Linked DNA regions of Homo sapiens. The protein of the gene in region 1 purifies or fractionates together with the protein of each later gene. This does not show direct contact. Each region holds a gene or a part of one and is shown in the gene's direction. Other genes may lie near its edges.

Evidence for each region.
Region 2: the proteins of TESK2 (region 1) and GCN1 purify together in Homo sapiens (affinity purification with mass spectrometry; one large-scale study listed by BioGRID and IntAct). This does not show direct contact.
Region 3: the proteins of TESK2 (region 1) and KIF1C purify together in Homo sapiens (affinity purification with mass spectrometry, with the first as the bait; one large-scale study listed by BioGRID). This does not show direct contact.
Region 4: the proteins of TESK2 (region 1) and CPLANE1 purify together in Homo sapiens (affinity purification with mass spectrometry; one large-scale study listed by BioGRID and IntAct). This does not show direct contact.
Region 5: the proteins of TESK2 (region 1) and CAD purify together in Homo sapiens (affinity purification with mass spectrometry; one large-scale study listed by BioGRID and IntAct). This does not show direct contact.

What each region holds. Positions count from the first base shown.
Region 1 is NC_000001.11:45,455,718-45,461,270, reverse strand, and holds part of TESK2 (dual specificity testis-specific protein kinase 2), read left to right. Parts: intron 1-3,399; 5' UTR 3,400-3,485; coding exon 3,486-3,707; intron 3,708-5,553. UniProt on the Homo sapiens protein: Dual specificity protein kinase activity catalyzing autophosphorylation and phosphorylation of exogenous substrates on both serine/threonine and tyrosine residues. Phosphorylates cofilin at 'Ser-3'. May play an important role in spermatogenesis.
Region 2 is NC_000012.12:120,138,266-120,143,818, reverse strand, and holds part of GCN1 (stalled ribosome sensor GCN1), read left to right. Parts: intron 1-877; coding exon 878-995; intron 996-1,096; coding exon 1,097-1,312; intron 1,313-2,795; coding exon 2,796-2,960; intron 2,961-4,962; coding exon 4,963-5,124; intron 5,125-5,403; coding exon 5,404-5,496; intron 5,497-5,553. UniProt on the Homo sapiens protein: Ribosome collision sensor that plays a key role in the RNF14-RNF25 translation quality control pathway, a pathway that takes place when a ribosome has stalled during translation, and which promotes ubiquitination and degradation of translation factors on stalled ribosomes.
Region 3 is NC_000017.11:5,021,183-5,026,711, forward strand, and holds part of KIF1C (kinesin-like protein KIF1C), read left to right. Parts: intron 1-909; coding exon 910-1,527; intron 1,528-2,285; coding exon 2,286-2,969; 3' UTR 2,970-5,529. UniProt on the Homo sapiens protein: Motor required for the retrograde transport of Golgi vesicles to the endoplasmic reticulum. Has a microtubule plus end-directed motility.
Region 4 is NC_000005.10:37,245,943-37,252,139, reverse strand, and holds the start of CPLANE1 (ciliogenesis and planar polarity effector 1), read left to right. Parts: upstream 1-2,763; 5' UTR 2,764-2,895; exon of another isoform or gene 2,896-3,294; intron 3,295-4,394; 5' UTR 4,395-4,441; coding exon 4,442-4,522; intron 4,523-6,197. UniProt on the Homo sapiens protein: Involved in ciliogenesis. Involved in the establishment of cell polarity required for directional cell migration. Proposed to act in association with the CPLANE (ciliogenesis and planar polarity effectors) complex.
Region 5 is NC_000002.12:27,232,903-27,238,455, forward strand, and holds part of CAD (multifunctional protein CAD), read left to right. Parts: intron 1-139; coding exon 140-238; intron 239-409; coding exon 410-634; intron 635-723; coding exon 724-906; intron 907-1,105; coding exon 1,106-1,324; intron 1,325-1,615; coding exon 1,616-1,783; intron 1,784-2,342; coding exon 2,343-2,525; intron 2,526-2,633; coding exon 2,634-2,738; intron 2,739-3,381; coding exon 3,382-3,621; intron 3,622-3,846; coding exon 3,847-3,928; intron 3,929-4,476; coding exon 4,477-4,643; intron 4,644-4,815; coding exon 4,816-4,980; intron 4,981-5,153; coding exon 5,154-5,285; intron 5,286-5,528; coding exon 5,529-5,553. UniProt on the Homo sapiens protein: Multifunctional protein that encodes the first 3 enzymatic activities of the de novo pyrimidine pathway: carbamoylphosphate synthetase (CPSase; EC 6.3.5.5), aspartate transcarbamylase (ATCase; EC 2.1.3.2) and dihydroorotase (DHOase; EC 3.5.2.3).

The sequences.
Region 1 (5,553 bases):
AGGGATTCTCAAAGTGCTGGGATTACAGGTGTGAGCCACCGTGCCTGGCCACGTTTTGAGATTAAATGAGGAAATGCTTTTAAAATTCCTGATGTTTAAAAAAAAAAAACAGTGGCCAGGGGCAGTTCACACCTGTAATCTTAGCACTTTGTGAGGCTAAGGTGGGAGGATCACTTGAGGCCAGGAGTTCAAGACCAGCCTGGGCAATACAGTGAAACCTTGTGTTTCCAAAAAAAAAGCTATTATGACCCATGACTCTGGGTTTTAAACAAGCTCCTCAGGTAGTTTGAAGCACATTATCAACAGACATACTTTGAGAAATACACTACCCTTGGCTTTTTGGTTTCAAGTCTAGCTTTGCTAGTAAATAGGTTATAGCATTAACTTTTAGCATTTGCACTTTCTGGGCCTTATGTTTCTTCAAATATAAAATGAATGACTGAAGTTGATGTTTTCTACTGGCTCTAAAATTAAGAAAATTTGGTTTTTAAAATTATTATTATTTTTTTAGTGATGAGGGGTCTTGCTGTGTTGCCTAGTCTGGTCTTGAACTGGCAGGCATGATGGCACATGCTTGTAGTCCCAGCTACACAGGTAGCTGAGGCAGGAAGATTGCCTGAACCCAGGAGTTTGAGGCTGCAGTGAGCTGTGATAGCACCATTGCACTTCAGCCTGGGCTTGGATTAAAGGAATGAGCCCCTGCACCCGACCCTATTTTATTTTATTTTTATTATTTAATTTATTTACTTTGAGACAGAATTTCACTCTTGTTGCCCAGGCTGGAGTACAATGGCATGATCTCGGCTCACTGCAACCTCTGCCTCCCAGGTTCAAGCTATTCTCCTGCCTCAGCTTCCCGAGTAGCTGGGATTACAGGTGACTGCCACCACGCCCAGCTAATTTTTTTGTGTTTTTCGTAGAGAGAGGGTTTTGCCATGTTGGCCAAGCTGGTCTCAAACTCATGACCTCAGGTGATCTGCCTGCCTTGGCCTCCCAAAGTGCTGGGATTTTTCAGGCGTGAGTCACCATGCCTAGCCTCTATTTTATTTTTAAAATTCCATTTATATTTTAGATTCAGGAGGTATGTGTGCAGGTTTGTTACAAGGGTATATTGTGTGGTGCTGAGGTTTGGACTTCTGTTGATCCCACCACCGAGATAGTGAACACAGTACCCAATAGGAAGTTTTTCAGCCCCTGCCTGTCTCCCATTTGGGGGCCTCCAGTGTCTGTTGTTCCCATCTTTATGTTCATGTGAACTCAAGATTTAGCTCCTAGTTATAAGTGAGAACATGCGATATTTGGTTTTCTGTTTCTGTGTTAGTTCACTTAGAATAATGGCTTCCAGCTGCATCCATGTTGCTGCAAAGGACATGATTTCATTCTTTTTTGTGGCTGCAAATTTTTTGTCTTATAACCCTAAATTTTTTTGAGACAAGGTCTTGCCCTGTTGCCCAGGCTGGAGTGCAGTGGTGCTATCACAGCTCACTGCAGCCTCAAACTCCTGGGCTCAGGCAATCCTCCTGCCTCAGCCACCTGTGTAGCTGGGACTACAGGCGTGTACCATCATGCCTGGCTAGTTTTTACATTTTTTCATACAGACGAGGTCTCACTATGTTGCCCTTACTGGTTTCAAACTCCTGAGCTCAAGTGATCCTCTTGCCTTGGCCTCCCAAAGTGTTAGGATTATAGGTATGAGCTACTGTGGCCAGCTAACCCTAAATTTTTGTTCTTGTGGATGTAAGTATTTGGTCTGGTGGTGCTGATGCCACTTTTTGGCATAGGTTCAATAGAGGTACTTAAATGTTTTGTTATTTGGGAACTCAGAGTATTCTTCCTTTTTTGAAGACTGTGGTAGAACTAGATTAACTAGATTCAGGTAGATCTCATGGAACCTCAGGATGCAGTTAGGCCTTAAGAATTGGGGATTAGAGCAGAATAGGGAATTCAAAAAGTTCCCTTCCTTTTTTTTTCTTTGAAAATTGGCCTCAATCTCTTGACTTCTTCTGCCTTCCAGGCAGTATTATAGAAAATGCCCCTGGCCAGCAGCTTCTGAGTTTACATGGCTTCTATTTTAGAAAGCCGCCATATTGAGACTGGACTATTTAATTCCAATTGCACATTGCCAGGAAAGAAACTGTGGTTGTACACACTGGGTACGGTGCTGACTTCTGGCAATGGGTAAGGAGGCAGACTCATGTTACTAAGATGGCCCTGGGATTCCTGCCACTTTTCTGAGTTGCAGAGCTGGTTAGAAGTGGTGGTGGTAAACTGAGTAGGTATCCACCTCCTTTATGAAAGCATTTCACTAATTGAGGAGTCACAATGTTGTATTTTGCATAGAACCCTTACAATTGAGTCTCATGGAAAAAAGTAGAAAGAGGGAGAGACAGGCTAAAAGAAAAAGTAGGCTTGTGCTTTTATTCTTAGTTATGTACCAGATGGGATGGAGCCTTCTATAGTTACTTCTACTGGACTGTGCTTTTTCATCAACAGTGAATTTTTAGATTGCTTTTGGATATAGTTTTCTTTTTTAAAAATTATATAATATATAATTTTGAAGTCTCCTTGTAATGTTTGTTTTATATATTTGGAATTAATTTTTGAAATAAAATATTATATGAGGCTATAAAGGGTATTGATTGGTAGAAAGAAGCACAGGCTTTTGAATCAGACAGGCTTTGCACTTCAATTTTTTTTTTTTTTTTTGAGACAGTGTCTCACTCTGTTGCCCAGGCTGGAGTGCAGTGGCACGATCTCGGCTCACTGCAACCCCTGCGTCCTGGGTTCAAGTGATTCTCCTACTTCAGCCTCCTGAGTAGCTGAGATTACAGGTGCTTGCCACCACGCCTGGCTAATTTTTGTATTTTTAGTAGAGATGGGGTTTCACCATGTTGGCCAGGCTGGTCTCAAACTCCTGACCTCAAGTGATCCGCCTGCCTTGGCCTCCCAAAGTGCTGGGATTACAGGCGTGAGCCACTGCACCCAGCTTCCATTTTATCTCTGCCTTTTAGTGACTGATTTCTTGATCTCTCTGTGAAATGAACATAATAATCCTTATATCATGGATTATCTGAGAATCAAACGAGATGATGTATGTCAAGCTCTTATACTATGTTTCCTAGAAAGTAGGTGCTCAATGAATGATAGATATTATCATTGTTATTTTGTTACTTAGAATGTAATTGGTGATCTTCATGATATTCTACTCATGGTAAAGACTGACTATATCTTGGGCTTTAAATATATCAGTGTTATTTGAGGGTAAAGACATAAAACATTTTTTAGATCTGAAAACCAGGAACTAGAATGTGAAAGGAAATATTTTTGCATTGAGCATTTATTGCTTTACATGTATTTATTCATTAAAGATTTCAGTGGAAATTTTTTTGATCTCTTTAGTGTCAAACCAGAAGAGAAGTAAAATTCAACAAAAATTTATGTGTGGAGTTCCTTCTTAAAAGAAGAAAAAAGTGATTATTTAGACTATGGATCGGAGCAAACGGAATTCAATTGCAGGATTTCCTCCACGTGTGGAGCGTCTTGAAGAGTTTGAAGGAGGTGGTGGAGGAGAAGGAAATGTGAGCCAGGTGGGAAGAGTTTGGCCATCTTCGTATCGAGCTCTTATAAGTGCCTTTTCCAGACTGACGCGTTTGGATGATTTCACCTGTGAAAAAATAGGGTCTGGCTTCTTTTCTGAAGTGTTCAAGGTGAGTGAGTCTTCAGCTTTTCTCATATTGTCTTGCTGTGGTCACATTTACTGCAGGTTGATAGTTGTGTTTAATTAGGATGTAGGATTTGCCTAATAAAGGTGCTGTGGATCTTGAACACTGTTCTAAATTCTCCTTTCAAGCTATTTATTAACTTATATTAAGATATTTTGTTTGAATCCCAAAAATAATATGCTGGTTAAAAATTCAAATAACATAGGATTCTCTTCCACCTCACCTCTACCCCCAGCCACACATGTGTGTATGTATCCACACATACATTCTCCAGTAATAACCACTATTAACAATTCAGTATGTATACTTCTGGACTCTTTCTGTGCATATACATATATTATGCACACACCTTAAATACATATATTAAAATTATATATACACACACCCACATATATAGTTTTTGTTTGCTTATCTTCAGTAAAATTGATAGCTGGGTACAATGGCATGCACCTGTAGCCCGAGCTACTCAGGAGGCTCGCTTGAGGCTGTGAGTTTGAGAGCAGCCTGGGCAACATAGCAAGGCCCTGTCTCAAAAAATATGAGCCCATAATGCTCCTAAGCAATCATATTTCCCTGTTTCACTCACTCCCTCAAGAGAGTATTTTGTACCTTTTCTTCTCTCATCAAATCCCAGTATTTCCTCACTAGTCCTCATTGTCAGTAATTAATGAATTGCTTCCCAATTCACTGAGAAAATTGAAGCAAGCAGAAGAGAACTTCTGCAGACTTCCATTACTACAAATAGCTATCAACACACATCTTTACCCAGTTACTTGGCCTTTATACCTTGTACTATGGATCAACTACTCATGCTCCTAAGTCCATTATTTCTGTTTATATTGTACATTCCATTTCCACTTGCCTACTAATAGGCATTGCCTAAGAAATTCTCCCCTCTCTTTTCTACATTGTATTTTCACTACTAAGTATTACCATTAACATGTTAAAAAAATTCTTTTAAGGAAAAAAAAAACCCAAATATTTTGGCTCTGTTATTTCCCCTTTATTTTATTTTATTTTTATTTTTTTTGAGATGGAGTCTCACTCTGTTGCCCAGGCTGGGGTGCAGTGGCATAATCTTGGCTCACTGCAACCTCTGCTTCCCGGGTTCAAGCAATTCTCCTGCCTCAGCCTCCCTAGTAGCTGGGATTACAGGCGCCTGCCACCACACCTGGCTAATTTTTGTATTTTTAGTAGAGACAGAGTTTCACCATTTCGGCCAGGCTGGTCTTGAACTCCTGACCTCAAGTGATCCACCTACCTCAGCCTCCCAAAGTGCTGGGATTATAGGCATGAGCCACCGCGCCCAACCTATTTTATTCTATTATTTTATTTTATTTTATTTTATTTTTTGAGACAGGGTTTCGCTCTGTCACCCAGGCTAGAGTGCAGTGTGGTGTGATCATGGCTTACTGCAGTCTTGACCTCCCTGGACTCAGATGATCCCCCCACCTCAGCCTCCAGAGTAACTGGGACTACAGGTGCATGACACCATGCCCAGCTAATTTTTGTATTTTTTGGAGAGTTGGGGTTTCACCTTGTTGCCCAGGCTGTTCTTGAACTCCTGGGCTCAAGTGATCAGCCTGCCTCGGCCTCCCAAAGTGTTGGGATTACAGGTAAGAGCCACCACACCCAGCCCCTATTGTTTCTTTTATTAATAGGTATACTTTCCCATGTCTTGTTTTTTTTTGGACCAAAACAACTCCATAGAGTTGTCTCTATGTACCATTTCCAGCTTCTTTCTTTCTAATGTGTCTTTCTCTAAAATACTTTTTATTGCAGTAAAATATATATAACATAAATTTACCATCTTAGCCATTTTTTAAGTGTA
Region 2 (5,553 bases), on another chromosome or scaffold:
AAGTCCTCTCTATACAGGCTTCCAATTTGTATTCAGATTTTAAGTGTCAAGTACTCTTTAATCTAAAAATTTTACTTATGGGAATATATTTCAAGGATGTAGGGAATGGTCAAGTGCTTAAAGCTGTTAGACATAAGGATGTTTGTTGCAGTATTGCTTACCATTTGAAAAATTGGAGGTTGATTTAAAAATATAGCACATTCATACAGTGGTCTTTTTTTTTTTTTTTTCCTTTTTGAGACGGAGTCTCGCTCTGTCACCCAGGCTGGAGTGCAGTGGCATGATCTCGGCTCACCGCAACCTCTGCCTCCCGGGTTCAAGCAATTCTCCTGCCTCAGCCTTCCGAGTAGCTGGGATTACAGGCACCTGCCAGCACGCCTGGCTAATTTTGTATTTTTAGTAGAGGCGTGGTTTCTCCATGTTGGTCAGGCTGGTCTCGAACCCCCGACCTCAGGTGATCCGCCTGCCTTGGCCTCCCAAAGTGCTGAGATTACAGGCGTGAGCCACCACACCTGGCCTGAAATAGTTTATCCTTTAAGGCCTCTCCTGGTTCCTCCACTTCTGATGATCAGTCTTCCTACTTGCCTGTTAATGCTTCCCCTTTTGTACTCACTTTATTTTTTATAACTTTTGTTATAGAAATTTTTACATGTTTTTAAAAAGTTTTTTTCCCTCAACATTAATGTATGTTCATTAGTAGAAAACTTGGAAAATATGTGGGCGAGTGTAAAGAAATGTAAACCACCTGACTCTTCCCATTCCAAGATGACCGTCATGAGTATTTTGGGTGCACTTCTTTCCATCTTCTGTGCAGTGCTCAGTTGTGCCGAGCCCACTCCTTGCAGCTGTGTGACTGTGTTGTTGGCCTCCTTCTCAGGTTCAGCTCTGTTCAGCTCCTTGGGGATCTCCTGTTTCACATCTCAGGAGTCACTGGGAAGATGACCACAGAAACTGCCTCTGAGGATGATAACTTTGGAACTGCCCAGTCCAACAAGGTGCCTGCAGTGGCTTTCCTGCCCCTGCTGATGGTAGGGTGTGCCCTGATGCCCATGCCATAGAGGCTTCACTACTCTCTGTCCCCTTCTACTGGCTGCAGGCGATCATCACTGCCCTGGGGGTAGAGCGGCGGAACCGGGTGTTGGCAGGGCTGTACATGGGCCGCTCAGACACCCAGCTGGTGGTGCGGCAGGCGTCCCTGCATGTCTGGAAGATTGTTGTCTCCAATACCCCCCGCACCTTGCGTGAGATCCTACCCACTCTCTTTGGGCTCCTGCTGGGTTTCCTGGCCAGCACGTGTGCAGATAAGAGAACGGTGAGTTTCCTGGGCCTTGTTTTGGACCAGCAGCCCCAGTGCCTCCTTTCAGAGCCTAGAAGGCTGGGTCTGCAGAGCCTGGGAAAGTACCCATCCACCCTGCCTAACAGAGGGACATTGTGTTCTTTACTTAGTCATTCTGCAAATATTTTTTGATTAATTTTATTTTATTTATTTTTTTGAGGTGGAGTCTTGCTCTGTCGCCCAGGCTGAAGTGCAGTGGCGTGATCTCAGCTCACTGCAAGCTCCGCCTCCTAGGTTCATGCCATTCTCCTGCCTCAGCCTCCCGAGTAGCTGGGACTACAGGCATCCACCACCACACCTGGCCATTTTTTTATATTTTTAGTAGAGACGGGGTTTCAGCACGTTAGCCAGGACGGTCTCGATCTCCTGACCTCGTGATGCGCCCGTCTCGGCCTCCCAAAGTGCTGGGATTACAGGCTTGAGCCACCACGCCTGGCCTCTGCAAATATTTATTAGCATCTCCTGTGCACTAAGCAGGGGCCTAGCACCTGGGGACACAATGGAGAAGAAAGGCAGCTTCATTCCTTATCCTCATGAGAGGTAGTCTAGTCGAGGAGATGGATATTAATCAAATAACCACACAAAGAGATGTAAAATGCGACTGTGGCCAGTGCTGCATGGCACTGCAAATGCTTATAATAGCTGCATTTGACCTGCTGGGGAGGGATGGGCCTGTGTTAGTGAACACTTCTCAGAAGAAATGATGCTGGAAGATGAAAGATAAGTAAGCACTAACCAGGTGAGGAGGTGGCGAAAGACCATTCCAGACAGAGGGAATAAATAATGTTTCAGATACAAAGACAGGATATGCAGAGGTCCCGTGGTGGGCAGGAACATAGCACCAGTAGGGGCTGAGCAAGGCCAGTGTGGCTGGAGTGAGGAGGCAGGGAGGAGCAGTGCGGCATGAGATCAGGCTGGCGCGCTGGCAGGGGCAGACAGATCAGTGGGCCTGGAGGAGGTGCCCAGATGGGCTGGTGATCATTTCTGCCCATCTCCTTTGGTCTACTTCCAACCCCCCATCCTTGGCAAGCAAATTGTGTATTTGGCTCTAAAGAAGGGTTTGCATGAGGTCTCAGAAAGTAGATGTTTTTTTTTCCTTAAAGCTTTGTTCCAGATTCGGCTCCTGCTCAGCCATAGCACAGTGTTAAGGCTTCAGTCATCCAGGGAAATTGGCCCTTGACTGTGCAGCAGATGATGAATTTTTTGTACATGTGTAAGGTGCTGCTGGCTCTTAATGTTAGGTTGTGTAGGTGTGTGTGAAACAGATAATTTTTTGGTAGTGTTTTGCAAGCACTACAGAGAGTATTTGGGGGCTCTTTAGGGGTAAGAGCATTTGGGGAAGTTAAGTCAGTGATTCAGATAAAGCCTGGGAGGTTTCAGGGCCCTCATTCTGGAGTCCTCCTCTGGGTGCCCTGGGCTTTGCAGGGACTTTACTTCCTGGATTGGTCTCTGTTGACAGATTGCAGCGAGAACATTGGGAGATCTTGTGCGGAAGTTAGGGGAGAAAATCCTCCCCGAGATCATCCCCATCCTTGAGGAAGGCCTGAGGTCTCAGAAGAGCGATGAGAGGCAGGGTGTGTGCATTGGCCTAAGTGAGATCATGAAGTCCACCAGCCGGGATGCCGTGAGTATCTTCCAAGGATCCCGCCAGCTGTGCACTGCAGACGACCTGACTCAGAGGGCGGGGGAGGGCTACTGAAGGAGGTTCACCTCTAGGGGGTTTGTGCTGCCCTCAGGGATGAGCCAGTCTCACTCTGGGGAGGTGCTGGCTGGGCCACATGGACTTGAGGCTCCGTCTTCTCAGCTTTCCTGTCAGTTTTGCAGGCTAAGAGCTAAGTGATTTGGATGCCTCCTTGAGTGGCCTTTGGAAACTGGAGATGATCGCTCTCTTACAACTGTGGAGGTTGCTCAGGATCAGTCTCTTTTGTGATGCTATATAAGTCCAGTTAAAATGTGTGCACCTCCTTCTGGGAAAGGGGATGGACAGCTGTGTGAGTGGGTAGGGCAGGAGGGTGCGGGAGGGGGTGTGCACTCACCCTTAGCAGGAGGGGAGCAGGTAAGAGTTGTGGTGCCAGGTGGGAGGAAGCATATTGCGTCTGGCAACAATACTGTTTCCATAGCAGCAACGTTCAAGGGGTGTGAAGTCCATTACTCTTACTTGGTTCCTGAGTTAAATGATCCTGGAGACCACCCTGGGGAGTAGGTTAGGAGTGCTTTTAGGCACTGCCTTCGTGTTTGGATGAAAACGCCAAAGCAATTAAGTGGATGGCCCGCTAGAAATGTAAGCAAGTGGCCAGTTGCTTGGCTTGGGCATCCTTGTCTGAATTCCTAGGATACCAGATCCCTCTTCTCCTATATTGATGTTTGTCTTACGTTTGGTTTTTAAAATTTACATTTGGCAAGGAATCAAAAGAAATTCTGTCATCAGAAAGAGTTGTGATTCATTGGAGAGGTAGAGTTCCACAGAGGCTGAGTTCTTGTCTGCAAAGTCCCCACAGTCCAATGGCAAGGCCCACATGCCAACCAGTCATTAGAATGCAGAGTGGGCTTTGCTGTGCTGGGATCGTTACTGAGGGAGCAGAGCCATTATTGGCTCCATTGTAGACCCAAAGACTTCATAGAGCACAAAGTCTGGATTGAGACTTGAAGAAGGACTTGGAGTTTTCCAAGAGAATAAGCAAAAGAAAGAGTCCAGGGAGAGAGGGGGCCAGATGCCATGGGAAGGAGTTTGCAGTTCTTAGAGAAGATGGGAGGTATATTGAGAATTCACCTAAAAGATTCAAGCTGTTGATTATTAAGTCTCAGTGAAGGATACATGGGGGTGCATCACATCCTCTCTGCTTTTTTTTTTTATTGAGACGGGGTCTTACTCTGTCACCCAGGCTGGAGTGCAGTGGTGCGATCATAGCTCATTGTAACCTTGACCTTCTGGGCTCAAGTGATCCTCTCGCTATGGCCTCCTGAGTAGCTGGGGACTATAGGTGTGCACCACCACACGTAGCTAATTTTTGCATTTTTAGTAGAGGTGAGGTCTCACTATGTTGCCCAGGCTGGTCTCAAACTCCTGGCCTCAAGTGATTCTCTTGCCTCCACCTCCCAAAGTGTTGGGATTACAGGCGTGAGCCACTGTGCGCGGCCCCTCTCTACTTTTTAATTTTTTTAAAATTTTTAGTTTAAGACAATCTCACTCTGCTGCCCAGGCAGGAGTACAGGGGCACCATCTCTTTTGGCTACAGCCTCTGCTTCCTGGGTTCAAGCGATTCTTGTGCCTCAGCCTCCTGTGTAGCTGGGATTACAGGTGTGCACCACCACACCCAGCTAATTTTTGTATTTTTAGTAGAGATAGGGTTTTGCCATGTTGACCAGGCTGGTCTCGAACTCCTGGCCTCAAGTCATCCGCCCACCTTGGCCTCCCAAAGTGCTGGGATTACAGGTGTGAGCCACCGTGCCCGGCCCCTTCTCTCCTTTTTTTTATTTCACAGTAAAGAGTTAAGTTAAAAGACAAGTCAGGCAAAGAGAGTTAGGGTGGCCTAGCTGGGTCAGAGTCCCCTGCCTGTGCTTCTTGTCTGCTTCTGCTCCTTCTTTGCCTTTCCTGCATCTGGTACAGTTGTAGCTTGCCATTGCAGGTGCTGTATTTCTCTGAATCCCTCGTGCCCACGGCAAGGAAGGCTTTGTGTGACCCACTGGAGGAGGTCAGAGAGGCGGCAGCCAAGACTTTCGAGCAGCTGCATTCCACCATCGGCCACCAGGCTCTGGAGGACATTCTCCCATTTTTACTAAAGCAGCTGGTGAGTGGATCTACCACACACCTACCTACCAGTTTGGCTTTTGCCGTCTTTGTAGATGGAAAATACAGGGCGATTATTCTGCCAAGGCAGTCGCAATGTGGGCCCTCCAGAGGGAGTGGGTATAGCAAGATCAGACTTGGCTTTGTGCTTCGCCTTCGGCAGTGAGGAAATGTGGGTGCAACAGGAGGGAGGGAAACAAGTGGAGAAGGAAGTTGGCGGTGGCTGGTTGAGACAGCAGAGATGCAGATTCCTCAGGGTTGTCCCCAACACCCTCTGCAGGATGACGAGGAGGTGTCAGAGTTTGCCTTGGATGGTCTGAAGCAAGTCATGGCTATTAAGAGTCGTGTGGTGCTGCCCTACCTTGTGCCCAAGGTAAATCCCAACATGTGGTCAACACCCTCTGGCTCCAGGGCATTGACATTTCCAGGG
Region 3 (5,529 bases), on another chromosome or scaffold:
TTTTTTTTTTGGAGATGGAGTCTCCTGTCACCCAGGCTGGAACGCAGTGGGATGATCTCGACTTACTGTAGCCTCCGCCTCCTGGGTTCAAGCGATTCTCATGCCTCAGCCTCCCCAGTAGCTGGGATTACAGGAGCCCGCCACCATGCCTGGCTAATAATTATTGTATTTTTAGTAGAGACAGGGTTTCACCATGTTGGCCAGGCTGGTCTCGAACTCCTGACCTCAGGTGATCCGCCTGCCTCAGCCTCCCAAAATGCTGGGATTACAGGCATGAGCCACCGCACCCGGCCATGGACTTTCTATTTTGTTTTTGAGGCAGGATCTTGCTCTGTCACCCTGGCTGGAGTGCAGTGGCCTGATCATAGCTCACTGCAGCCTCGAACTCCTTGGGTTCAAGCAGTCCTTCCACCTCAACCTCCTGAGTAGCTGGGATCACAGGTGTGCACTTCCATGCCTGGCTACATTTTTTATTTTTTGTAGAGGTGGGGGTCTCACTACATTACCCAGGCTGGTCTTCAGCTCCTGGGCTCAAGTGATCCTCCTGCCTTGGCCTTCCAACATGCTGGGATTGCAGGCACGAGCCACCACCCCTCAATGGTCTTTTAAGTCTTGCACAAAGTTCCACACTCGATTAGCTACAACTAATACTTATGGTAACTTTCTCGGTGCCGGCCATGGTTCTAAGTACTCCACGTGGATCTGGGAGGTAGATCCCGTCACTATCTCTGTTGTCTAGAAGAGCAGCGTTAAGCAGTCTGCCCAAGGGTGCGCTGTTGGGGTGGAGCAGGACTTGAACCCAGGCTCCCTGATGGGCGTGTTTCCAGTGTACTTAGGACACACTGGGCCAAGACACATGGGCTCTGGATGTCCTTAGCCCTCTCTTCCTCTTTCTTTCTCTGGCCCCAGTATGCAGACTCGGACAGCGGGGATGACTCTGACAAGCGCTCTTGTGAAGAGAGCTGGAGGCTCATCTCCTCCTTGCGGGAGCAGCTGCCGCCCACCACGGTCCAGACCATTGTCAAACGCTGTGGTCTGCCCAGCAGTGGCAAGCGCAGGGCCCCTCGCAGGGTTTATCAGATCCCCCAGCGACGCAGGCTGCAGGGCAAAGACCCCCGCTGGGCCACCATGGCTGACCTGAAGATGCAGGCGGTGAAGGAGATCTGCTACGAGGTGGCCCTGGCTGACTTCCGCCACGGGCGGGCTGAGATTGAGGCCCTGGCCGCCCTCAAGATGCGGGAGCTGTGTCGCACCTATGGCAAGCCAGACGGCCCCGGAGACGCCTGGAGGGCTGTGGCCCGGGATGTCTGGGACACTGTAGGCGAGGAGGAAGGAGGTGGAGCTGGCAGTGGTGGTGGCAGTGAGGAGGGAGCCCGAGGGGCGGAGGTGGAGGACCTCCGGGCCCACATCGACAAGCTGACGGGGATTCTGCAGGAGGTGAAGCTGCAGAACAGCAGCAAGGACCGGGAGCTGCAGGCCCTGCGGGACCGCATGCTCCGCATGGAGAGGGTCATCCCCCTGGCCCAGGTAGGACTGGCCTTCTGCCTCCCTTCTCTCCTCCCTCGGCTCTTCACTTTAGGAGTCTGAACCTTCCATCTCAGAGCCTAACCTTCCCCAAGTCTGGAAAAAATTGCATTGAAGTATAGTACGTTTTTTTCAATATTGTTTACGAACCACATGCCTCGCTGTCACCAGGCTGCTAATTAAAATAGATTCCCGGGTTCCACCCCAGACCTACTGAATCCACATCTTTGGGGACAAATCTGCATTTATAATAAGCTCTGGGTGTTTCTGAAATACAGTGAAGTCTAAGACCCACTGATATAAAGTTTGCAGTTTTGTTTTGTTTCTGAGGTGAAGTCTTGCTCTGTTGCCAGTCTGGAGTGCAGTGGCACAATCTCGGCTCACTGCAACTTCCGCCTCCCAGGTTCAAGCCATTCTCCTGCCTCAGCCTCCTGAGTAGCTGGGACTACAGGCGCGCACCACCACACCCGGCTAATTTTTTTTTTTTGTATTTTAGTAGAGACGGGGTTTCACCATGTTGGCCAGGATGGTCTTGATCTCTTGACCTTGTGATCCGCCCACCTCAGCTTCCCAAAGTGCTGCGATTACAGGCGTGAGCCACTGCGCCCGGCCCTAAACCACTATTTTTCGAGCTTCCTTATCTCTAGGCTTTTCTCTGGACCCTTTGACATCCAGCCACTCCAGGTCCCTCTTGAATCCACATGTCCTGAGGATTCAGCTCTCCTCACATCCCTTCTCCTTTTCTCACTCCTCCCTCCCAGGATCATGAGGATGAGAATGAAGAAGGTGGTGAGGTCCCCTGGGCCCCGCCTGAAGGATCAGAGGCAGCAGAGGAGGCAGCCCCCAGTGACCGCATGCCGTCAGCCCGGCCCCCCTCGCCACCACTGTCAAGCTGGGAGCGGGTGTCACGGCTCATGGAGGAGGACCCTGCCTTCCGTCGTGGTCGTCTTCGCTGGCTCAAGCAGGAGCAGCTACGGCTGCAGGGACTGCAGGGCTCTGGGGGCCGGGGCGGGGGGCTGCGCAGGCCCCCAGCCCGCTTTGTGCCCCCTCACGACTGCAAGCTACGCTTCCCCTTCAAGAGCAACCCCCAGCACCGGGAGTCTTGGCCAGGGATGGGGAGCGGGGAGGCTCCAACTCCGCTCCAACCCCCTGAGGAGGTCACTCCCCATCCAGCCACCCCTGCCCGCCGGCCTCCGAGTCCCCGAAGGTCCCACCATCCCCGCAGGAACTCCCTGGATGGAGGGGGCCGATCCCGGGGAGCGGGTTCTGCACAGCCTGAACCCCAGCACTTCCAGCCCAAAAAGCACAACTCTTATCCCCAGCCACCCCAACCCTACCCAGCCCAGCGGCCCCCAGGGCCCCGCTACCCCCCATACACTACTCCCCCACGAATGAGACGGCAGCGTTCTGCCCCTGACCTCAAGGAGAGTGGGGCAGCTGTGTGAGTCCCACATCCTGGGCAGAGGGCCTGGTGGGGCCCCTTGCTAGGAGAAGGGAAGACGCCCGAGACGCTGCTTCCCCAGAAGTGCTGGGGCAGGGAGGCCCAGGAGATGAGAGAGAAGGTCCGAGTAGGTGATAGAAGACAAGGGGGAGACCGAGCCGGAGGCTGAGGAAAGGAAGAGGGCACGGAGTTGCCAGGAGCAAACCAAAGTGAAGAGAGAGATAGGAAGCTGCCTCGGGGCCACCCCTTGCAAAGGGGGTGTGTCCCACAAACGCTGCTATGGGTGGGGTGGGGGGCTGGGGTGCTGCGTAGCCAGTGTTTGACTTTCTTTTCAAGTGGGGGAAAGTGGGAGAGGACTGAGAGTGAGGCAAGTTCTCCCCAGCCCCTGTCCGTCTGTCTGTCTGTCTGTGGTGGTTTCTGTTTCTTGGGAGGCATGGTAGGATCATAAGTCATTCCCCTCCCCTTCCAGGCCTCCTGCTATATTTGGGGGACCTGACTGGTTTGGCTGGAGTCCCATGAGGATGTGGGCCCTTTAATAAAGGATAGCAAACAGGGAGCTTGTGGCCTGTTTGTTTTGGGTTTTCATGGAGGTGTAGGTTATATAAGGCAATGGCACAGGTCTTAAGCATACTTATCAGTGAAGTATTGTATGTGTGCTCTGTGCAGGCACCACCCAGATCTGGATATAAGAATGTTTCCATCTTGTCTTCCTGAACTTCACCCTCCTGTCTCTTCCTTCAGGGTGCGCAGCCCGATCTTTTCCCCGCTTTTTTTTTTTGGGAGACAGGGTCTTGCTTTGTTGCCCAGGCTGGAGGTACAGTCTTGGCTCACTGCAGCCTCCGCCTCCTGAGTAGCTGGGATTACAGGCATGTGCCACCACGCCCGGCTCATTACTGTTTTTTTTGTAGTGACGAGGTTTCACCATATTGGCCAGGCTGGTCTCGAACTCCTGATGACCTCAAGTGATCCGCCCACCTTGGCCTCCCAAAGTGGTGGGATTACAGGTGTGAGCCACCGCGCCCGGCCTCCCCTGCTTTCATGTTTGCTTACCCAGTGTCTCAGTCTGTGCCAGCAGCACCACTGTCTGTTATGGACAAAGCACAGAAGCGGGGATGCGAGGGGAGGTAGAGGGACCGCCAGCCTGTCAATGCTTAACTGGCTGTTGCTGACAGATACAGAAGGATTTGTGGGGTACAGAGGAGTTCTGCTTTAAGTCACCTAACTTACTTGAAAGGTCTCCCAAGCAGCCAGTTTCTCTTGATAGTGAATGGGTTGGGCAAGCATACTGCGCTTACCTGATTGTTTTCATCCTGGTTGTGTTACCTGCCTTCTGGCAGGCTACATCATTGTTCCCAGTCGTTATTTTATTTGTGTTAAGACTGTTTGTTGGCCAGGCGCAGTGGTTCACGCCTGTAATGCCAGCACTGGGAGGCCGAGGCAGGTGGATCACGAGGTCAGGAGATCGAGACCATCCTGGCTATCATGGTGAAACCCCATCTCTACTAAAAATAAAAATAAAAAAATTAGCCGGGCATGGTGGCGGGGGCCTGTAGTCCCAGCTACTCAGGAGGCTGAGGCAGGAGAATGGCATGAACCTGGGAGGCGGAGCTTGCAGTGAGCTGAGATTGCGCCACTGCACTCCAGCCTGGGCGACAGAGCGAGACTCCATTTCAAGAAAAATTAAAAAACTGTTTGTTGCCTGCTTGTTTTAATGTTCTGGCTTGAGGCAGCGAGCCCTTGACTATGCCACATTGCCAGGATTTTGCAGGTTAGATTGTACTACAGCACTGCCTTTGGCTTGCCAGACTCTGGAGTCCCCACATTTTCATCCTGTTCTCAGGAAAACACTTTGACCCACTTGAAGCTCTGAGCTACTGCTTCACAGCTTCCTGGGGTCAGTCTCCAGCCAAAACCATAGATATCCCAACTGCAGCCAAACCACGGCTCTGGGCGAAGGAACGATTAGGTTTACTCTAGGTTTCCACACCCTGATGCTCCTGCCTTTACTTTGACACCTCTGACTGCCAGGTTTTCACAGACCTGTTGACAGTGACTCAAGATCTGGAATGTAATGGATGGTTTGGCAACAGTGTTTGCTTGAGCAGTTTAAAATCTGGCCAGGGAGACTCAATGTGAGCAAGAAAATGATAGAATACCAAGTTTTCTGGAGGTCAGAGGGAGCTGAGTTGAGTGTTACCGAGAATGCTGTGGGGTTTGAGATGAGAAAAATAGCTTGCTAATTTAAAAGACGGATTATTTTTCCCTAAAGACCTTGACTTATGTAAATGTATATTATCCATAATTTTAAAAATCCACTTATGGCTGGGCACAGAAGCTCACACCTGTAATCCCAGCACTTTGGGAGGCTGAGGCAGGAGGATCAGTTGAGTCCAGGAGTTCGAGACCAGCCTGGGCAACATAGTGAAACCCTGTATCTACAAAACATAGAAAAACTAGTTGGGTGTGGTGGTGTGTACCTGTAGTTCCAGCTACTAGGGAGGTAGGAAGATCACCTGAGCCCATGGAGATTGAGGCTGTGGTGAGCTGTGAAGGCACCACAGCAC
Region 4 (6,197 bases), on another chromosome or scaffold:
GAATTACAATTCAACATGAGATTTAGGTAGGAACAAATATCCAGGCTATATCTACTGTTTTCTTTGGGTTTGTATAGCATGTTCTTTATTCATTGCTAGTAAAATACTCATCTGTCTCCCACTAAACCTGTGATATTCTTGAAAGCAGGAAATCTGTATTATTACTTTTTGTATTCTGACCACTGCTAGTTGTTCACCAAAACCATTTTCTCAGTCTTTCTGGGTACACTGCTAATCTACATTTCCCAGGCTTCCTTGCAGTTAGGTGTGATCATGTGACTAAGTTATTTCCAGTGGAATGTAAGCAGAAATATTATGTACTATTTCTGGGCACAGGTCTTAAAGACTGTGGGCAAAGCTCACTGTTTTTTCCCTTCTCTTTGACTGGAATCTTAGTTTACAGGGTCTCAGTTGCACTAGCTACATTTCATATGCTCAGTAGCACTTTTGGCTAATGGTTACCATATTAAGACACAGCAGACATAGAACATTTTCATCATTACAGAAATTTATATTGGATAGGAGCACCCTAGAGAGAATATCTACAATCTGTCAGATACCCCAGAATCATTACAATAAATCACCTCTGTTACTTAGGCTAATCAGATTTGATTTTACTATATGCTTTCAAAAGGAACTCAGTTATTATATATCTGGCACTATAACTATACCTACTAAACACTAAACCAAATCTGATGGGGCAATTCTCAGGCTTATTTCTATTTGACCTTTATCAGTTTTTTACCTGGTCAACCATTTCCTTGGATCTCTTCTACCCCTGACATTCTCTCATAAGAATTGGTATGCTGGCAGGCCACGGTGGCTCACACCTGTAATCCCGGCACTTTGGGAGACCGAGGTGGGTGAATCACGAGGTCAGGAGTTCAAGACCAGCCTGGCCAACATAGTGAAACCCCGTCTCTACTAAAAATACGAAAATTAGCTGGGCCTGGTGGTGGGCACCTGTAATCCCAGCTACTTGGGAGGCTGAGGCAGGAGAATCGCTTGAACCCGGGAGGCGGAGGTTGCAGTGAGCAGAGATCGTGCAACTGCACTCCACCCTGGGTGACAATGTGAGACTCTGTCTCAAAAAAAAAAAAAAAGAATTGGTATCCTCCATAAAATCTCTTACCAATATATACTAAAGACAGATGACCCTTAAAAAGTGCAGAGAGGGTGAAAGGGAGACTGATGCTTATTTTACACATTCTGTGTTCCCAAGCCTCCCATCGAGCTTCTGAACCACGCATCTAAATTGTTCACTAGATAGCTCCAGAGGCATCGCAAAATGGATGTGCTTCAAAATGAAACTATTCCTCATTCAAAACCTAGCTTAGTTTTGAACCTTCCCATCACCCAGATAGAGAAAATGGACCTGTGCATACTGCGATCATGGTATTTATGACTGCACTGTAACTTAAGTGTGTGTGACTCTCTTTTGAATAGGGACACCATCTTCCCCTCTTTATACCTAGCATAGTGTCTGACACACATAAGTGCTCAATGATTTTTATTTTAGCAAATTGTAGTCATTTCCATACATTATTTTTTACAGTAAACATTGCCGGATACATTTCCATACGTTTTTAAAGAATAGAGGAGGAGGAAGAGGAGGGAAAAAAAGGAAAATAAATAAATAAACGTGTGGAGCAATCAACTCCAGAATCACACCAATATTTCTAGGTCTAATGGCCACACAGCAAAATCAGCCTCAGTTATCCCATTGTCTTCATATCTTAAGACCTAAAAATGGGAACACAGGATTGTGGGAATAGGTTAGGATTTCTCAGTTTCCAAATTTTTCTGTGAGACTTTTATGCTAACTCTAGCACGGCTTATGTAAAATGTTCGTGATTTGGGGGTGGATCTAAACCACCTCAGATCTATAACCTCTGAGATAAGTGGGGCTGAGCTGCCAGAATGCCATCCGCCATTTATCCCACCCAGAGACACAGGGGTAATTGTGGTTCTGATGCAGCCAGTTCGCCTACCCTGTAACGCTTATTTGCTAAAATAAACCAACCTAAGAGCTAGCCATCCAATGCAGAGGGCAGGGCCATTTTCGGTGCAGAACATACCTGGCCTAGCCAAGGGTGACAGGGTCCTGCCTTCAAAAACAGGCCAGTCACATGAAAGAGTGAAGATGGGCGCATGTGGAGGAGGACAACAGGCCACTGCCTGAGGCCTTCACATTTAAGCTACACAAAAATGCTTTTCCAGGTGAGCAGAGCTCTCGGGCTGCCTGCTTGTGACCCCTGCTCCTGTCAGTCACGAGAACAGGGCGAAGGAGGCGAAAACAGTGCGGAGAATAAGTCCGTAGGACAGTGAGTTCGGAAAATGCCTTCTTCAGTGTTCCAAGGTGCCCACGTGAACTGAGGAGGGCAGAGCAAAACCCCTTATTTTCGGGTCTGTGCAGGGTCCCCGCTAGGAAGGGGCAGCCCTTGAGTTTCATGTTGGTCGGTTATTAAGCGGCTCCCCCGTGAGCCCCGCCCAATGCCTGTGCGCTCAAACTAGCAGCGTCCGAGGAACGCGTTAACTGGGAGAAGTGAACTGAGGGGGTCCGGCGGCCGCTGAGGAGGGGAGCGCGCGGGAGGAGGGGCGAGGAGCCCGGAGGCGGGCGCGGCTGGCAGCTTAGAGGGCCCGGGCGGAGGCCTGAGAGCAGGGCTGGAGGGGCGGAGGACCGGGGAGACCCGCCCGCGGCGTTCCCGGCCGGTTCTGAGCAGGCGCCGTGGCAGCGCCCGCGCCCCCTGCCCGCCCTCCGCCGTCGCCAGGACGCAGGCTCGCGTCAGGGCTGGCGGTAGGGCCCGCAGCTGTCGGCCTGGCGTCTTCACCCCGCGCAGTCGGCCTCGCCTAGCCTTCTCGCGCCTGACTGGCCGGACCCTGCCCCTGGCGGAGGTAACTGCCCGCGGATTCCTTACCCCGCGATCCTGGCCTCCTCGTAAGCTCCCCGGACCCGGGCGTCCTCGGTCTCCCCTCATCTACTCTTCTGTCGGGCAGGTCCGCGACCTTCCGCCTCCCGGGCCGTCTCCCGCCGCACCCGGCCCTGGTACATCCCCACTACCCAGTCCGGGCCCGTCCTCGCTCTGGGCCTACCCCAGCCTCCCAGCGTCGCCTGCTGACGGAGCGCGGGAGCCCCAAGGGGCCGGGGTCACCCGGCCGGCGTGGGTGGTGCCAGGCTCGGGCCACACCTCGGCACCGGACCCGAGTCCCCCAGCTTCTCGAGCAGGATCCGGAGGAATAGAACGTCAATTTTCCTCGCTCTTAGCAATTTTAAGATTGACTAATGGATTTAGGGTATGTCAGTGCATAAAGTTCCCAGTATTTTTTCACTCAATAATTTTAGCAGCGCTGATACTATTGACTGGATTTGTTATTTCATTAGGAGCTGCAAATGATGCTTTTCTAATGCCGGCGTTTCTCTGGCATTTGGTTAACCCTTTTGTGAGAATTTATTTTATTTGCAATTTTATTTATTTATTTTTGAGCCGGAGTCTTCGCTGCGTTGCCCACGCTGGAGTGCAGTGGCTCTCACAGGCACAATCACAGCTCACTGCAGCCTCGAACTCTCTTGTCCTCAAGCGATCTTCCCATCTCAGCCTCCGTGCTGACTGATAGCTAGCATCTTGATAGATCTTTGTGTGCTGTCTCTGAGTAGTTTTTCTTTTAAAGCTATTTTATTAAAAAAACAAAAAAACAAGCCCATCTAATTTGGCCGGGCACAGTGGATCACGCCTGTAATCCCAGCACTTTGGGAGGCTGAGTCGGGCGGATCACCCAAGGTCAGGGGTTCGAGACCAGCCTGGCCAACATGGTGAAACCCGGTTTCTACTAAAAATACAAAAAAATTAGTCCGGTGTGGTGGTGCATGCCTGTAATCCCAGCTACTCGGGAGGCTGAGGCAAGAGAATCGCTTGAACCCGGGAGGCGGAGGTTGCAGTGAGCCGAGATCGCGCCACTGCACTGCAGCCTGGGCTACAAGAGCAAAACTTCAACTCAGAAATAAAATATAAATCAAAACTTTATGAAAATTGTCAGTTAAGATCTTCAGTGGTCCATGCGCAGTGGATCGTGCCTGTTATCCCAGCACTTTGGGAGGACGAAGTGGATGGATCACTTGAAGTCAGGAGTTTGAGACCAGCCTGGCCAACATGGTGAAACCCCATCTCTACTTAAAATTAGCCAGGCGTGGTGGCACACGCTTGTAGTCCCAGCTACTCGGGAGGCTAACGCAGGAGAATCACTTGAATCCGGGAGGCGGAGGTTGCAGTGAGCTGAGATCATATCACTGCACTCCAGCTGGGGCAACAGAACGAAACTCTTGTCTCAAAAAAAAAAAAAAAATGCCCAGTGAATATTATGCATCATTTATATTTTATTACTATTATTGTTTACAGAATCTTGGGACTGTTTTACTTAATTGGTCATTGATAGCTTAACAAACATGGAGATAAGATTAGAAATCTTGACATCAACAGGTATTAAGCAGAAAAAACCATGGCCACGTGTCTCCTGGTTGGGAAAGGTAGGTTTTTCTTTATTCATGCAATACCAGTTTTATATATGTTATATGTGTGTTTTGCCTGTAATATAGGAGTGTTCTATGATCTTAAATAAATAAAACATCATCTACTGGAGGAGGATCTACAGGAGGATCACCTACCTGCACACTGAACAGGGTTTTGTGTGTGTTTCGTTTTTATTATAATGAGCAAGTTAGCTTTTCCAGAATGTTAAGTGGTTTATTTAGAAGATTTTTACTTAAACTATTTTTTTCATATTATGTTTAAGTCAAGTTTAAGTTAAGTTGAGATGGCATATATCAAAAGGGAATATTTAATGTCCTGAGCTTTCCTTTACTGGAACAGTTAATGGAGTGTTTCCTCCTATTGTGGTTTTCATGATTGTGCTATGAAGTGTTCTTGGAAACTAGGATGGAAGAAATGGGCCACAATACGTTAGTAATCCAGGAATGCCATTCATAATATATGGCATAGATTCCCCACTTAGGGAAAGTAGGCAACCCTACTTTATTTGTGATGATTATTGAAATAAAGTGTTAAATTTCCTGTGAGAAATTATACCACTAACTCCCCTGTAACAGGAGTTCTCAAACTATCAGAACTATCTGGAGAGGTGGTTAAAACACAGATTGCTGGGCCCTGTTCCCAAAGTTTTCAGTTAATTAGGTCTGCTGTAGGGTTGGATATTTTGTATTTTTTTATTTTTATTTTTTGAGATGGAGTCTCGCTCTGTTGCCCAGGCTGGACGCAATGGCATCCTCTCGGCTCACTGCAACCTCAGCCTCCCAGGTTCAAGCGATTGTCTTGCCTCAGCCTCCTGAATAGCTGGGATTACAGACGCATGCCACCATGCCCAGCTAATTTTTATATTTTTAGTAGAGGCTAGGGGTTTCACCATGTTGGTCAGGCTGGTCTTGAACTCCTCACTTCTGAGGTGTTGCTGATGCTGCTGGCTCAGTTATACCTTGAAAATCACTGCCTTAGAATATATGAAAACAAAGTTAACTCAAAACAGCCTACTTTTTCTAGGTAATAAAAAATGAGCAGAGTCAGGGATTTATGAATTTCAGAAGCTATATCTATTTTAATCTAAGTAAATAATTTAAAAACTTGCTCATACTACTGTTAAAATTGATGAGAGTCAGGTTCAGTGGTATGCACCTGTGGTCCCAGCTACTCAGGAGGCTAAGGCAAGAGGATCGCTTGAGCCCAGGAGTTCTGGGCTGCAGTGTGCTATACCGATTACGTGTCTGCACTAAATTCGGTATCAATATGATGACCTCCCGAGATCAAGGGGCTGGGGTAACCACCAGGTTGCCTAAGAATGGTGAACTGGTCCAGGTCAGAAATGGGCCAGGTCAAAACTCTCATGCTTATTAGTAGTGGGATAGTGCCTGTAAATATCTACTCCACTTAAGGCTGGGCAACAAAGTGAGACCTCAGCTCTTAAAAAAAAAAAAAAAAAAAGATTAAAAAGTAGATAAGCCAGTTTTGGCTAGCAGAATTAGAGGACACTCCTATAATTTTAAACTTCAAAGAAATTGAAATACAACTACTAGGTAGCCTTACCTATTAATTCTAACGAGGTATTTTAAAACAATTCAAAATGTTCAGGCTACTATAGAGTATTAAGCTTAATGTTCATTTTATGATTTGTGGTACAAATGGATAATCTTT
Region 5 (5,553 bases), on another chromosome or scaffold:
CAGGGGTCCTGTACAGCTCTTTCAGAGGAAGCTGTGCTGGCAGTCTCTGAAGTAGGGGCTTTGGCTTAGTTTCTCCACGATTTTCTCCACGATTTTCCTCCCACCTGACTGCTAAGTACCCTTCCCCTCCCTCTTGCAGATGGGATATAAGACCATCATGGTGAACTATAACCCAGAGACAGTCAGCACCGACTATGACATGTGTGATCGACTCTACTTTGATGAGATCTCTTTTGAGGTGAGGGAGATGGAGGCTTCCTGGTAGCTTGAGTGGCCAGGGTCGAGTAGAACAGCTGGCTGACCTAAGATTCTTTGAAACTTGGTGGCGGCTGAGGGAAGCAGTGAGCAGGAAGGCTCAGATTCCTGCCCTCTTTTGCTGCCACCACTTGTTTCTCCCCCTGCAACGTAGGTGGTGATGGACATCTATGAGCTCGAGAACCCTGAAGGTGTGATCCTATCCATGGGTGGACAGCTGCCCAACAACATGGCCATGGCGTTGCATCGGCAGCAGTGCCGGGTGCTGGGCACCTCCCCTGAAGCCATTGACTCGGCTGAGAACCGTTTCAAGTTTTCCCGGCTCCTTGACACCATTGGTATCAGCCAGCCTCAGTGGAGGGAGCTCAGTGACCTCGAGGTGGGCTGGGACCTGGTGGGTTACCCGGAGGCTGGATGATGCTTGGGGGAAAGTGTGAACAACTCAGCTAAGCTCCCTGCCTCCTGTAGTCTGCTCGCCAATTCTGCCAGACCGTGGGGTACCCCTGTGTGGTGCGCCCCTCCTATGTGCTGAGCGGTGCTGCTATGAATGTGGCCTACACGGATGGAGACCTGGAGCGCTTCCTGAGCAGCGCAGCAGCCGTCTCCAAAGAGCATCCCGTGGTCATCTCCAAGTTCATCCAGGAGGCTAAGGTGGGAGGCTGCAGACAGTGAAGTCTCTGAGGGCATGCTGCCAGCCCTGGAGGAGACTTCCTTCTCTGGTCCAGCAGAATCATAGGCACCAGGGCTGGGAACAGTGGGCTATGTGGGGCTCGTTAAAGGAAGAGACAATCCTAGAGTAAGTGAGAGAAGAAAGTGGCCCTATGTCCCACTGTCTGTGTCCCCCCGCTAGGAGATTGACGTGGATGCCGTGGCCTCTGATGGTGTGGTGGCAGCCATCGCCATCTCTGAGCATGTGGAGAATGCAGGTGTGCATTCAGGTGATGCGACGCTGGTGACCCCCCCACAAGATATCACTGCCAAAACCCTGGAGCGGATCAAAGCCATTGTGCATGCTGTGGGCCAGGAGCTACAGGTCACAGGACCCTTCAATCTGCAGCTCATTGCCAAGGTAATAAGGCTAAAGGAAAGAACTAAAGGGCCACAGCTCTTGCATGTTCTGTGCTGGCCACAGTGCCATGAAGCCCTGCACTGTCTCCTGCCTTCATCCAAGTAGGCAGGGAAGCTGGAGGGAAAGGGCTGTAGCTAGAGCTCATGGTGTTGGGGCTTATGACAGTCAGTGACCCTGAACCCTGCTCAGTCTGATCCCCCAGAGCTGAGGACGGAGAGGAAGAGTCTAGGCCTATAGATAGTGTCAGCAAGGCCAACCTGCAGAAGGCCTGACCAGTCTTCTCTGCCCCAGGATGACCAGCTGAAAGTTATTGAATGCAACGTACGTGTCTCTCGCTCCTTCCCCTTCGTTTCCAAGACACTGGGTGTGGACCTAGTAGCCTTGGCCACGCGGGTCATCATGGGGGAAGAAGTGGAACCTGTGGGGCTAATGACTGGTTCTGGAGTCGTGGGAGTAAAGGTAAGGAATATCGAAACCCTTGGGGTTAGCAGAAAAATAGCGGGAGAGAGTTCACTCACCACACAGAGTTGTCAGTATGTAAACCAGGCACTGACTGCAAGGCATTGCCGGATCGTGGGGGTAATGAGGTGGTCATTGTCCCTTAAGAGCTTACTTTATGGTAATGGGAGGGAAGAGAAGTTGGATCCCCAAAAAAGCTTTGGTATAGAACAGTCCGTGGTAAAACTACATATTCGACCTGTAAACAGAATGCTGCAGGAGTTCAAGAGACAGGAGGTGCTGCTTCCAAAAGGGGTGATCTGGGAAGGCTTGAGCGAAGGGGTGCTATTTGAATTGAGTTTTGAAGGATGGTTAAGGTTTTTTATTTGCAAGGGCACATCCTAAGCAGAAGCTGAGGGATGACCCCAAGTACGTTTGGAAAGCAGGAGGGCACACAGAGAGGGCAGGCTGACCCTGCCATTCAGATGGGATCAAGCACAGGGTACTGTGTCCGTCTCTGCTGGTGAGGGAGGAGGTCCTCTCACACCTTGGCCCTCTCTCTTCCCTCCCGCCCCTTTAGGTGCCTCAGTTCTCCTTCTCCCGCTTGGCGGGTGCTGACGTGGTGTTGGGTGTGGAAATGACCAGTACTGGGGAGGTGGCCGGCTTTGGGGAGAGCCGCTGTGAGGCATACCTCAAGGCCATGCTAAGCACTGGCTTTAAGATCCCCAAGAAGAATATCCTGCTGACCATTGGCAGCTATAAGGTATCAGAATCCAGGAGGGCTTCCCGAGGGCCGTGGCTCCCTGGGCCAGGGCTGACCTTGAAATGGAAGACAGGAAGAAAACAATTTCATCCTTCTGTTTGGTTTCAGAACAAAAGCGAGCTGCTCCCAACTGTGCGGCTACTGGAGAGCCTGGGCTACAGCCTCTATGCCAGTCTCGGCACAGCTGACTTCTACACTGAGCATGGCGTCAAGGTGCAGGAACTCTGGCAACCTACCCCACTGCTGCCCTTCCCCAAGGGGGTGAAAATACTGCACCAAAGAATTATCTGGGCTGGGCACGGTGGCATATACCTGTAGTCCCAGATACTCAGGAGGCTAAGGCAGGAGAATCTCTTGAGCCCAGGAGGTAGAGGCTGCAGTGAGCTGCGAGTGTGCAGTGAGTGCACCACTGCACTCCAGCTTGGGAAACAGTGAGATGCTGTCTCAAAAAAAAAAAAAACAAAGAATTATCTCCTATTCCCCTGCTTTTATTATTACCATTATACTAGTAAGCTATATTCCATGCAGAAAGCAGAATACACAGGAAGCAAAGAGAAAAGTCTCTTAAAATCTCTGTACCACTGTTCTGATATTTTTCCTTCCAGGATTTTCTCTGTGTACATGTGTGTGAGCTCATACTGCACCTAGTCCTTGGTAACCCATCTTACTTAGTGTAGATATCTTTCCTGCCAAGAAATACACTTTGCCAGTATCAAATAGAGGCAGCCCTCAGTGCCCACCCTATGGGTCCTCAGTCTCCTCATCATGGGCTCCTGGGCCAGCTCCTCTCCCTTAAGGCTAGCCTTCCTGACCGCTGCCAGACAGCTTGGCCCTGACCTTGACTCCGGGTTGGCAGGTAACAGCTGTGGACTGGCACTTTGAGGAGGCTGTGGATGGTGAGTGCCCACCACAGCGGAGCATCCTGGAGCAGCTAGCTGAGAAAAACTTTGAGCTGGTGATTAACCTGTCAATGCGTGGAGCTGGGGGCCGGCGTCTCTCTTCCTTTGTCACCAAGGGCTACCGCACCCGACGCTTGGCCGCTGACTTCTCCGTGCCCCTAATCATCGATATCAAGTGCACCAAACTCTTTGTGGAGGTAACTGAGACCCATGTGCTGGGAGGGAGACTGCCAGTGTTGATGGGAAGAAGAAAGAGGGAGGAGTGAGTATGGAACAGCCATGCTAGTAATAAAGCTTTGTGGCTACAGAGGGAGAGATGGTGGGTATAGAGTGTGCAGAGCCTGGTTTATGGGAAAACCACATCTCTCCCTACAACTCCCAGGATCACCCTTCCCTTAAAGCTGACTGCTTTCCACTTGCAGGCCCTAGGCCAGATCGGGCCAGCCCCTCCTTTGAAGGTGCATGTTGACTGTATGACCTCCCAAAAGCTTGTGCGACTGCCGGGTAAGTCTTTGGGGAGAACTTGGCTTCTGAACACTGGCAGCCCCTGGCATAGAGACCTGCAGTGTGGTGAAGGATGGCTGGGGGGCCCACTCTTTGTCCTGGACTGCACAGACTGTGAAGACCCCAGAATGTTTCTCACTCTTTCATTCCTTAATCCACAGTGTCCACAGTGGCCTTGTCTGAGGAATTTTTTTTTTTTTTTTTTTTTTGAGACAGAGTCTTACTCCATCGCCCAGGTTGGAGTGCAGTGGTGTGTGATATCGGCTCACTGCAACCTCCGCCTCCCAGGTTCAAGCGATTTTCCTGCCTCAGCCTCCCAAGTAGCTGGGATTACAGGTGTGTGCTACCACACCAGGCTAATTTTTGTGTTTTTAGTAGAGACGGGGTTTCACCATGTTGGTCAGGTTGGTCTCGAACTCCTGATCTCAGGTGATCTGCCCACCTCGGCCTCCCAAAGTGCTAGGATTACAGGCGTGAGCCACCATGTCCAGCTCACCCTTCCTATTTCTGAATCTTCCTGTAATCTTGCTGCTTCCATTTTCTCCCAGGATTGATTGATGTCCATGTGCACCTGCGGGAACCAGGTGGGACACATAAGGAGGACTTTGCTTCAGGCACAGCCGCTGCCCTGGCTGGGGGTATCACCATGGTGTGTGCCATGCCTAATACCCGGCCCCCCATCATTGACGCCCCTGCTCTGGCCCTGGCCCAGAAGGTGAGCCACTGCACTCTTCCTGGTATTGGAGACCCATATGCCCCTACCAGCCACCCTTGCTTCCCTGAGCCCTTTTCCTTCTGCCCCGCCCTATGGGCCCAGGCCACTGGTGCCAGGCTAGCCTGTGTGGGCATGGGTGCCAGTGAGCCTTACCTCTGTGTATCCTCTCCAGCTGGCAGAGGCTGGCGCCCGGTGCGACTTTGCGCTATTCCTTGGGGCCTCGTCTGAAAATGCAGGAACCTTGGGCACCGTGGCCGGGTCTGCAGCCGGGCTGAAGCTTTACCTCAATGAGACCTTCTCTGAGCTGCGGCTGGACAGCGTGGTCCAGTGGATGGAGGTAGGGAGTGTGCATGTGGCAGGAGGCCACCACCCAGTGTCTCCTGGCTTGTGGGCCCCTGCCTAAGTGGGCTGGTAGCAGTGAGGATTCAGGGGAGCTCCTGGGGACTCTGGGCTCTGATGAGCACAGTCAGAGATTCTGCACACTCCTTCATCAGTTCTTTCTGCTCCCAGCATTTCGAGACATGGCCCTCCCACCTCCCCATTGTGGCTCACGCAGAGCAGCAAACCGTGGCTGCTGTCCTCATGGTGGCTCAGCTCACTCAGCGCTCAGTGCACATATGTCACGTGGCACGGAAGGAGGAGGTAAGAGTACACCTGAGATCCTGCTGTCCCTGTTGCTTTCCCAGTAACACCAAAGGTCAGGGTAGTCCTTAGGGGCAGGAGACAGCAGGAGGAGAGTCTGGAGACAGCAGGAGGAGGGTCTCGAGCCAGCACCCTTGCAGGTCTACATCATCATTTTTTGAGCAGGGATGTTGGCCATTGGGACTTTGTGTAGGGCAAGGCATATGGGTGGTGCCTCTTCTGGATCTTCCCATTGTTCCCCAGATCCTGCTAATTAAAGCTGCAAAGG